3 linked regions of the Homo sapiens genome follow. The protein of the gene in region 3 interacts with the protein of the main gene of each other region in a pairwise test. Each region holds a gene or a part of one and is shown on either strand. Other genes may lie near its edges.

Region 1 (3,663 bases), on a different chromosome or scaffold from region 3:
TTTTGAATTCTTGATTTGTTTTGTAAAACATTTTCTCTGAATTCCTTTGGCATTTCCTGATGATTTCTCATAATTTAGCAATTTATACAGTGTCTCATATTGTTTATTATTATTTATGTTCCTTGAGGGTTGGAATGGGTGCTTTTCTTTTAGTCTTATTTATTTTTGAGACAAGGTCTCATTCTGTTGCCTGGGCTGGAATGCAATGACATGATGATAGCTCACTGTAGCCTCAAACTCCTGAGCTCAAGTATTCCTCCTGCCTCAGCCTCCCAGGTAGCTGGGAATATAGGCATGAGCCATTATGCCTGGCTAATTTTTTGTTTTCTGTAGAGACAAGACTTTGCTGTGTTGCCCAGGCTGGTCTCAAAATCCTGGGCTCAAGCAATCTTCCCACCTCAGCCTTCCAAAGTGCTGGGATTGCAGGCATGAGCCACCTGACTAGCTGGTCTCTTTAAAAATTAGTTGCACTTGACTAAGAGAAAGAGAGACCCCAAAACAGTGGCTTCAGTAAACAGTAAATTTTATTTTTCTAATGGAATGACAATTCCAAAAAACAGGCAGTTGCTTGTGTTAATTAGGGCCATAAGGATACCAAGGCATAGGTCTTTGACATTTCCCTTGTCTTTTCTTCATGGTCGTGAGATGGTCGTTCCAGTCATGGCCAATGCGTCCATGTTTCAGGCAGCAGAAAGGTGGAATCAGGGAAGAAAATACCTATTTCAGTCAAGCTGAATTTTCTGCTTACAGATAATTGGAGAGAACAAGGTTATATGGCTACCCTTATGTAAGTGAAGTTGAAGAATTGTTTTCTGATTGAGCACATTTGCCACCTTCCAACAAAAATGAGATATTATTAGTAAGAAAGAAAGGGAGAGAGTCCATTAATTGGTTACTTATAATACAGCAGTAGAGAACACAAACTCAGAACAGCTTCTGTCTTCTTTTTTTTTTTTTCCGACACCAAGTCTCGCTTTGTGCTGGAGCGCAGTAGCATGATCTCAGCTCACTGCAACCTCTGCCTCCCAGGTTCAAGCAATTCTCATGCCTCAGTCTCCCGAGTAGCTGGGACTATAGACAGGCACCACCACGCCCAGCTAATTTTTGTATTTTTAGGAGAGATGAGGTTTCTCCATATTTGCCAGGCTGGTCTTGAACTCCTGACCTCAGGTGATCCGCCCGCCTTGGCCTCCCAAAATGCTGGGATTACAGGTGTGAGCCACCATGCCCGATAGCATGTATCTTTTGTTTACCCCGAGTAAAGATATATTCATTCACACTTGAAATATCTAGATTTTAAGTAGCTCTCAACACATAGCCACCTCCTTTGTATGTCCTAGTGAGATGTGGAAGCTAATCTCCCAATTATGTGTCACAACTAGCTTCAAAACTATAGACCTAACAGTACTCCAAAATGAATGCAGATTGAGCATCCCTAATCTGAAAATCTGAAATCCAAAACTCTTCAAAATCTGAAGCTTTTTGAACGCTGACATGATGCCACACAAGTGGCTGAGATATTGACACCTTTGCTTTCTGATGGTTAAGAGTACACAAATTTGTTTTAGCCACAAAATTGTGTAAAATATTTTATAAAATTACTTTTAGGCCATGTATATAAGGTAGATGTGAAACATAAATGAATTTCATATTTAAACTTGGGCACCATCCCCAAGATATAATGTATGTGCAAATATTCCAAAATCCCAAAATACCCGAAATCTGGTCCCAAGCAGTTTGGGTAAAGGATACTCTCAACCTGTGTAAGGTTGTGAGACATAGCAACAAAAGGCTATGTGATAAAGAAACAGGAAATGACATTGCATAATGATTCATGGCTGTGGTGATGTTTGAAGGATAAAAATCATGATTGTTCCAGTTTGAAAAACAGAGAAATACATTAAATTCTTTTTTTTTTTTTTTGAGGCAGGGTCTTACTCTGCCACCCAGGCTGGAGTGCAGTGGCACCATCATGGCTCACTGCAGCTTTGACCTGCTTGACTCAAGTGATCCTCCTACTTCAGCCTCCCAGGTAGCTGGGACTACAGGTGCATGCCACCATGCCTGGCTTATTTTTGTATTTTTTGTAGAGATGGGGTTTTGCCATGTTGCCCACCTGGTCTCAAACTCCTGGCTTAAGCGATCCTCCTACCTCTACCTCCCAAAGTGCTGGGATTACAGACATGTGCCACCATGCCCAGCCCATTAAACTCAACATTATCAAAGGCTATATTCAAGATGATCTTGAATTCCCAAATTTGTAAACGTGGAAATGTTTGTACCAGGCATGTATGACTTTGTCCTTTCAAATCATGTTTGTCAGGTTTCCTGTAGATTATCCATATGCCACAAGTTAACCACATTTTCAACTTTAATGCAAAGTTGTTCTCTTATCTAGTGAGCTACTTGTATATTAGCTAGAAACAGCTCCTTCCTGAAACAGTTTTAGCTTTACAATTTTTTTTCTCTTTCCTTTTGTTGTGAATTCATTTACCTAACAGATGGAGTCCCCTTTGAACTGGATACTTAATTTTAAATTTATTCACAAATTTTTTTCTGACTAAAAGCCATTACTTCTTTCTTTCTTTCTTTCAGTCATTTATTTATTTATTTTAAGAAATGGGATCACAGTCTGTGAGCCAGGCTGGAGTGCAGTGGTACAATCATAGCTCATTGCAACCTCGACCTCCTGGGCTCAAACCGTCTTCCCCCCTCAGCCTCCCAAGTAGCTGGGATTACAGACATGTGCCACCATGCCTGACTAATTTTATTTTTAGAGACAGGGTCTTGTGGCTGGGCACGGTGGCTCACGCCTGTAATCCCAGCACTTTGGGAGGCCAAGGTGGGCAGATCTTGAGGTCAGGAGTTCTGGAGCAGCCTGGCCAACATGGTGAAACCCTGTCTCTACTAAAAATACAAAAATTAGCCAGGCGTGGTGGCACAAACCTGTAATCCCAGCTACTCAGGAGGCTGTGGCAGGAGAATTACTTGAACCCGGGAGGCAGAGGTTGCCGTGAGCCAAAATTACACCATTGCACTCCAGCTCTGGGCAACAGAGCAAGACTCTGTCTCGAAAAAAAACAAAAACAAAAACAGACAGTGTCTTGTTATGTTGCCCAGGCTCATTACATCTTTAGATCCTTTTACTTTCTTCACCTCGGTTACCAATACTAGCCATTGATTGGCGGGCAAGAGGTGGGCATTTTTTCCTACAATACAGCAATTTTTTACAACCTGGCTAAGGCTCCTAAGAGCTGGTTATATAAACCATGACAACTAGAGAAGGATGAAACCTTATTTTGAAATACAGGATCCCATATACTAGTGTTTTACACCAATGGTACTCAAAGAGTGGTCCCAGACCATGGCATCAACATTGAGCAGGAACTTGTTATATATGCGAGTTATCTAGTCCTACTCCAGACAAACAATCAGAAACTTTGAGGTTGGACCCAGCAGTCTGTTTTAACAAGCCTGCAGGTGATTGTGATGTGTGCTAAAGCTTGAGAATCATTTAAGTAAACAATTAAAATTCTTACTACAGCAAAATGCAAATTTTATGTGTAACAAAACTTCCAGGTTACTTGCTCACAAATAATAGAATCGGTGCTGCCAGACAATTACTGTATAAAGAGAGAGTGATGAGGATATAGAAAAATAGGT
Region 2 (2,873 bases), on a different chromosome or scaffold from region 3:
TAATCATATAAGGCCATCCTGACATTGTTTCTGTGTTTCAAAATTTGGATTTTTATTTACATTAGAACTACATTGCTCCTAGTAGAACATTACCTTTAGGGGACTAATTTTCCATGGAGAACTATTTCAGCATATTGCATGCTGCTCAGACCCCAAGTCAGATATGCCCACCAAGCCAGATGAAGCTACACAAATGTGGTATTTAAATGCATTTTGTACAGTGACTTCAGAGTATCTCACATGACATGGGTGTAAACTGGCTGGGGAGAAAATGATGCTTGTTCACCTCTTCCTCCAGCCGTGGTTAGGTGGTCCTAGGGGTAGCAGAGGGAAGGGAGGATTTTGTGCAGTCAAGATTTGCTTTTCCATCCTTGTCTTCTGAATGTCTAAAATCTCTGCATCTTTCTGAAGTTTAACAACTGTCTCCAGAGGTTTGCCAGGCAGCAGCTCTCAGAAGTTTCCAAAGCTTTGCAGAATCTTAGATCTGGAATTAAAGAATTCAAGCCCGAATTGTGAGAACCAGATATTACTCAACAGAAAGCTCTTTCTAAGGAATCTGAGCTGTTCACTGGTGGACAGTGGTGGGGCTTGAGTGCTCCTTGTTAATAGGATGGGCCATGCACCCTCTCTGGATATTCACCAAGGCCTCTTCAGAATAGGGTTTGTTCTGGCTAGAAGCGTGGTCTAGAAGATGGCTAAGCTCTTTGCCAGCTCTCATTTGGAGTTTTATTATTGCATAAAATCTTCGCTCACTCTGCAAATCTTACGTAATCTGGCACCTTCGGCACCAGGTGGTGCAGGGGCACTTCTAAGTGGGCTCTTTTTGTTACAGCACAACTCTCAGACAGTCCTGTGGGTCTTTGGATTCGTCAGCATTCCAGCAAACTAGCCCTGCTTAGAAGTTAGCACAAGACAGCAGAATGCAGGACCCCGTAGGCAAAATCACAACCTTGCTATTAAAAAAAATTTTGTTTTACATACACATTTGCAGGTGTTCCCTAGAGTGTGGTGTTTTGAATTTGCTCTTTGTCATCTGTATAATTGCCAAATGATTATAGTGATACACATGACCTGCATTCACTTTTTTCTAGTTTCCTTAATTATGTTTAGAATAAATTCATTTCCCTAGACCGAGAACCACAAACAGGTAGTGTGGAGCATACACCGAATTTAGAAGCATGTGGATAAGGTCAGTGCTCACACTGCCTAGTCCACAGGGAGAGGATGCTGCATGAATATATACTTGCCTCTGAGTGGAGGAGAAATCGTGGCATGAAAGAGAGAGTACCAGTGATGACTTCTTATCCCTGGAGCTGGGCTTTCACTGCTACCCATATCCCAGCCCTGCGAGTCTGTTCTAGCCAGCACAGACACCGCAGATCCGGAACTGAATGTTCCTAAATGGCGCAGCCAATCCAGGCTTTTCAGAAACTGGGCAAAAACATTAAAATGGGGACGATCGGGTCTTCCGCAGTGGTCCAACACAGGATTTCTTTTAAATGTTTCAAAAACATGTCCTTAAAATTTCAGCCTGCTTCTTAGCGAGTGGGCCAGTTTTGCTTAAAACTGGTGGGGGGGCGGGGGGGAAGTTTTTAAAAATTGCCAAAAAGTTAGATGCAAATGTATTACTGTATAAAGCAAAGCTGTATATACTAAACATTTTTTAGCAGAGTAATATTTATTTGCATAGTCTATTTATTGTATTCGTATCACACTGTTATTAAATACTGGGATGAAATCAGTGACCTGAAGCAAGAAATCTTGCCTTTTAATGTATCATTAATTAGGGCTGCTGTGATATTGTCAGCTTGCATTAACAATTAGAAGATAGAGAACCCGCCATCAGGGTGTCTACCTAACTTCTCAGGGACTACACTTGGTAGTTTTCCACCATTTAAAGAACTGGTAAATATGAAACATTTGTTGAGTTACCAGAATTGCCATTAACAGTGTTTTCTTTCCCATATTCCATGCTTTCTGCCTCTGTGTATATATATAATATATATGTATATGACTGTGCTGTGTATTTATCGAAGCTAGTAAGCAATAATTTATATGTAAAAATGGCCAAGCAATATAAGGTTAAAACTTATATAAGTAACCCTTACCTTATCTTGTATTTTCAATTTTTTTTTAAAACTGCTTTTCCAAATATGAGACTATGTTAAAGACACTATTCATGCCTCTTAGTTTCTTGCTTTCTCTGTGATGTGTGTGGATTAAATAGCTCTGTTCTGGCAGCATATGATGCTCAGGGGGTTGGAACTCAGAAGTCATTTGCTCACTGAAAGAGCTACAAGTAGATGAAGAGGTTCTCAGGCAGCCCATAGAAGCCTAAATCACTTATCCTGCCATTGGGTTATTGCAGAACCTAAACACCCTATTTTGGAAATTGCATCAGTGTTCTCAGAGTCTGAAATCTGGGGAATCTGGCAACCATTGTCATTGCCTCACCCTACTTGAGCAGGACCAGGAACTGTCCCTCACCAGCCCAGATACTGAGTGCAGCTACCAGCCCAGTGGTGATGCCCGGGGCCCAGGATAGAGGTCCTGACAGCGGAAGAGCCATGAGTGGATGGAGCAGCACAGGGATAATAAGGATGCTCTGGGGCAGTGGGATGCCAGGCGGTATATACACTAGCGCAGACTGAGTGTTCAGCATCTTCTCTCTGTGTAAACAGGAAATTTGTACATCTTGCCCATCGAGGTCAAGTTTGGCCTTTGGCATGTGTCCATCTCCCCCTTGCAGGGGGATTATAAACCTCACCTTCTTGAACCCAGGAGTGGCCCAGTGTCTTGCTCTGTCCAGTGAAAAATGGGGAGACATGTCTGTGGAAGCTTTATGAGGTAGCCTGCACCTGCCATGCCTGCTG
Region 3 (2,539 bases):
AGATATAAATTGTGTACATTTTGCTTAATGGCCCAAAGAAACAGCTTATCAATAATCTAACCAATGAATATCTTTGAGTCAATTGCTTTCTCTAATTTCTGTCCATGCAATAGCTAAGAATTTGATTGTGTGCTGTCAAAATTCTACCACTGAGGTTAGCGGAAAACAGGCTTCATATTTCTTTGCAAATAATCAAATTTCCTTTAAATAGACCTATCTAAAATCAGTTGATAATTTAACTTGAATTCCCAAGCCACTCAGGAAAATAATCCAATATTCACCTCCCACATCAACCCAAAGTCTGTTACTTTTCTGTCTTCTTATTTGACTCAAATACCTTTCCACTTGCTGGTTTACTCAAAAGATCTGTTTCATCTCCATGTTTTAGAGCCTGAGGATTTCATTTTTAGTTATCTATTCAAAACATTTTCTTCACTGTAAAATGATTGACAACTAGTAGTTTTTGTTACAATGGTAATTCTACTTTCCCAATCCATCACAATTGTCTTGGTTTTTATAGAAATATGACAGGTTGTCTTGAAATTCTGAAGGTCTCAAAATTATGCGAGAGTGAAAAATGTCCCTGAAAAAGTAAGCAACTTTTTAGATTGAAATAATCACATGAAGAAAAGAAACAAGACACAATTTGATATTTCAGTTTATTTTCCAAGTTTACAGTATAAAAAATGTGATGTGTAAAACATTTTACAGTTAATTGGGATGAGGGGGGGATTATACTGGAGGACCCAAAAAGGAACAAAATAACTTGGGTGACAGGTACACTATTCCATCAGAGACACTAACTCTGTTACTGACATCACAATGAGAAGAAGTTTCATAGCATAAACCTTATGAATGTAAGTAAATGGACCTGTACAGATGGTTGCTGGTAGTGTCATTCATTCATTTACATGCTTGCAAATGTGTCAAAAGAGCCCACTACCCAGTTTATGCAGGAACTCACTCAGGCCTTGTCATACACATATGGTGACCATGAGCAGAGGCTGGTTGGCAAAACTGCCCCTCCTGGTTACAATGTACAGTATTAACTAATCAGAAAGAACAAAAAAGGTCCCTGACCACATTTTTACACAAACCGTTATGACTCTGTCAGGTAAAGACAGGTGGTTTCATCTCTGAACTTTCTAAATTGGTGCTGGACTTGAAATCAGGAAATGTAAAGTCCTTCTAACCAAAGCAATTATCAAATAATCTCCTCTCAAATAAGACCTGCCTGGCCCAGGCCTCTCTGGTTCTCTCAGTAGCATTTCTGTTGAGGAAGGGGTCATCTATAATGTGAGTTAAATCACTGAGCCAGTATCTGCCCCCACCCTCATCTTTGCTGGCATCCTGCACTCTATGCAATAGTTATGGCCATAAATGACTGTTGGAAATCAAATTTGGCTAATCACGCCATAACTTAGGGGTCCCAGAGGAGTTTGCCATTTAATTAAAGCCTACCGTAAACTATTATAAAAATAAATTATTGCCATAGTTTAGATTTTTGTATGTTCCCTTTTTAAAGAATGATGATGAAAAGTAAGCGAATGTTCCATTACCTCTATAACTGAGAGGTGCTGGTAAATGAAAAACAACTGTTTCATCTTTCTACAAGGCCCCTAGAACGGCAATGATGTGCAACTGTCTAAATTCCCTACAACTTCAGTTGAACTAAACTTGTCACCTGCAGATCAGATGCCCAAGTCCCATCACTAACTCCCTGAGCAACAAGTCTCTGGTCCCCACAGATGAAGCTTTCTTAGGCTGAAGGCTTTTTAGAATTAAACACTCCTAAATGATGAGCAACTTCACAACAAAAGGCCATGTCTACAAGTGAAAGCTCAGATAAAGATAAGCACATACAAAACCAAACAACTGTACATTCAAATAATGCTTCCCAAATACCATTTCAGTGCCAAAAGAAGTGCCAAAGACACTTTTAAGATAAAAGCCTGGGGTTTGTCACCTTTGTCCCCAAAGCTTAAAGTAAGTGTCTTTCTTCCACTATGACAAGGACAAAACGCTGATGTTTGTAAGCTGAGAGAGACATAAATGGTAGAGTCTTGGTGCCATATTGAAAGAAACTTTTCACAGTGCTGCACCTGGCTTTAGGAATCTGCTCTTTTGTTGGAGAGACTAAAACAACCCACTAAAGAGGCTTATTTCATAGACAAAACAAATTGGGTTATCTACGTAGAAACGGAACAGGACCTGGGAAAACGGGACTTATAGAGCCCTGAAATTTAATTTTATTCTGAAGTTTTACATTTCTAATCCATCGCATCTTAATTCCTAATGAGATGTCACATGGAGAGATGTGAGCACCATCTTCCCTTTACTGTCTTCCATTGAAAGCAAACAGCAGGGCAGAAAACTATGGTTTATGCACAACTGAATCAAAACTTACTACATATGGGAACAGAGAAAAATGGTTTTCTGAGTCCTGTTTTACGTCTGCTCTGTCAAAAGTCTTGGGGGCAAGTGTGAGAAAGACGGTGGGATGCAAACTGCTTGCTGAGAACACCTACGTCAAGGAGGC

What was found.
Region 1: the proteins of VANGL1 (region 3) and NT5C3A interact in a two-hybrid assay, tested with the Homo sapiens proteins (one large-scale study listed by BioGRID and IntAct).
Region 2: the proteins of VANGL1 (region 3) and RAPGEF5 interact in a two-hybrid assay, tested with the Homo sapiens proteins (one large-scale study listed by BioGRID and IntAct).

What each region holds. Positions count from the first base shown.
Region 1 is NC_000007.14:33,052,614-33,056,276, reverse strand, and holds part of NT5C3A (cytosolic 5'-nucleotidase 3A), read left to right. Parts: intron 1-3,663. UniProt on the Homo sapiens protein: Nucleotidase which shows specific activity towards cytidine monophosphate (CMP) and 7-methylguanosine monophosphate (m(7)GMP). CMP seems to be the preferred substrate.
Region 2 is NC_000007.14:22,117,606-22,120,478, reverse strand, and holds the end of RAPGEF5 (rap guanine nucleotide exchange factor 5), read left to right. Parts: 3' UTR 1-2,243; downstream 2,244-2,873. UniProt on the Homo sapiens protein: Guanine nucleotide exchange factor (GEF) for RAP1A, RAP2A and MRAS/M-Ras-GTP. Its association with MRAS inhibits Rap1 activation.
Region 3 is NC_000001.11:115,696,328-115,698,866, reverse strand, and holds the end of VANGL1 (vang-like protein 1), read right to left. Parts: 3' UTR 646-2,539; downstream 1-645.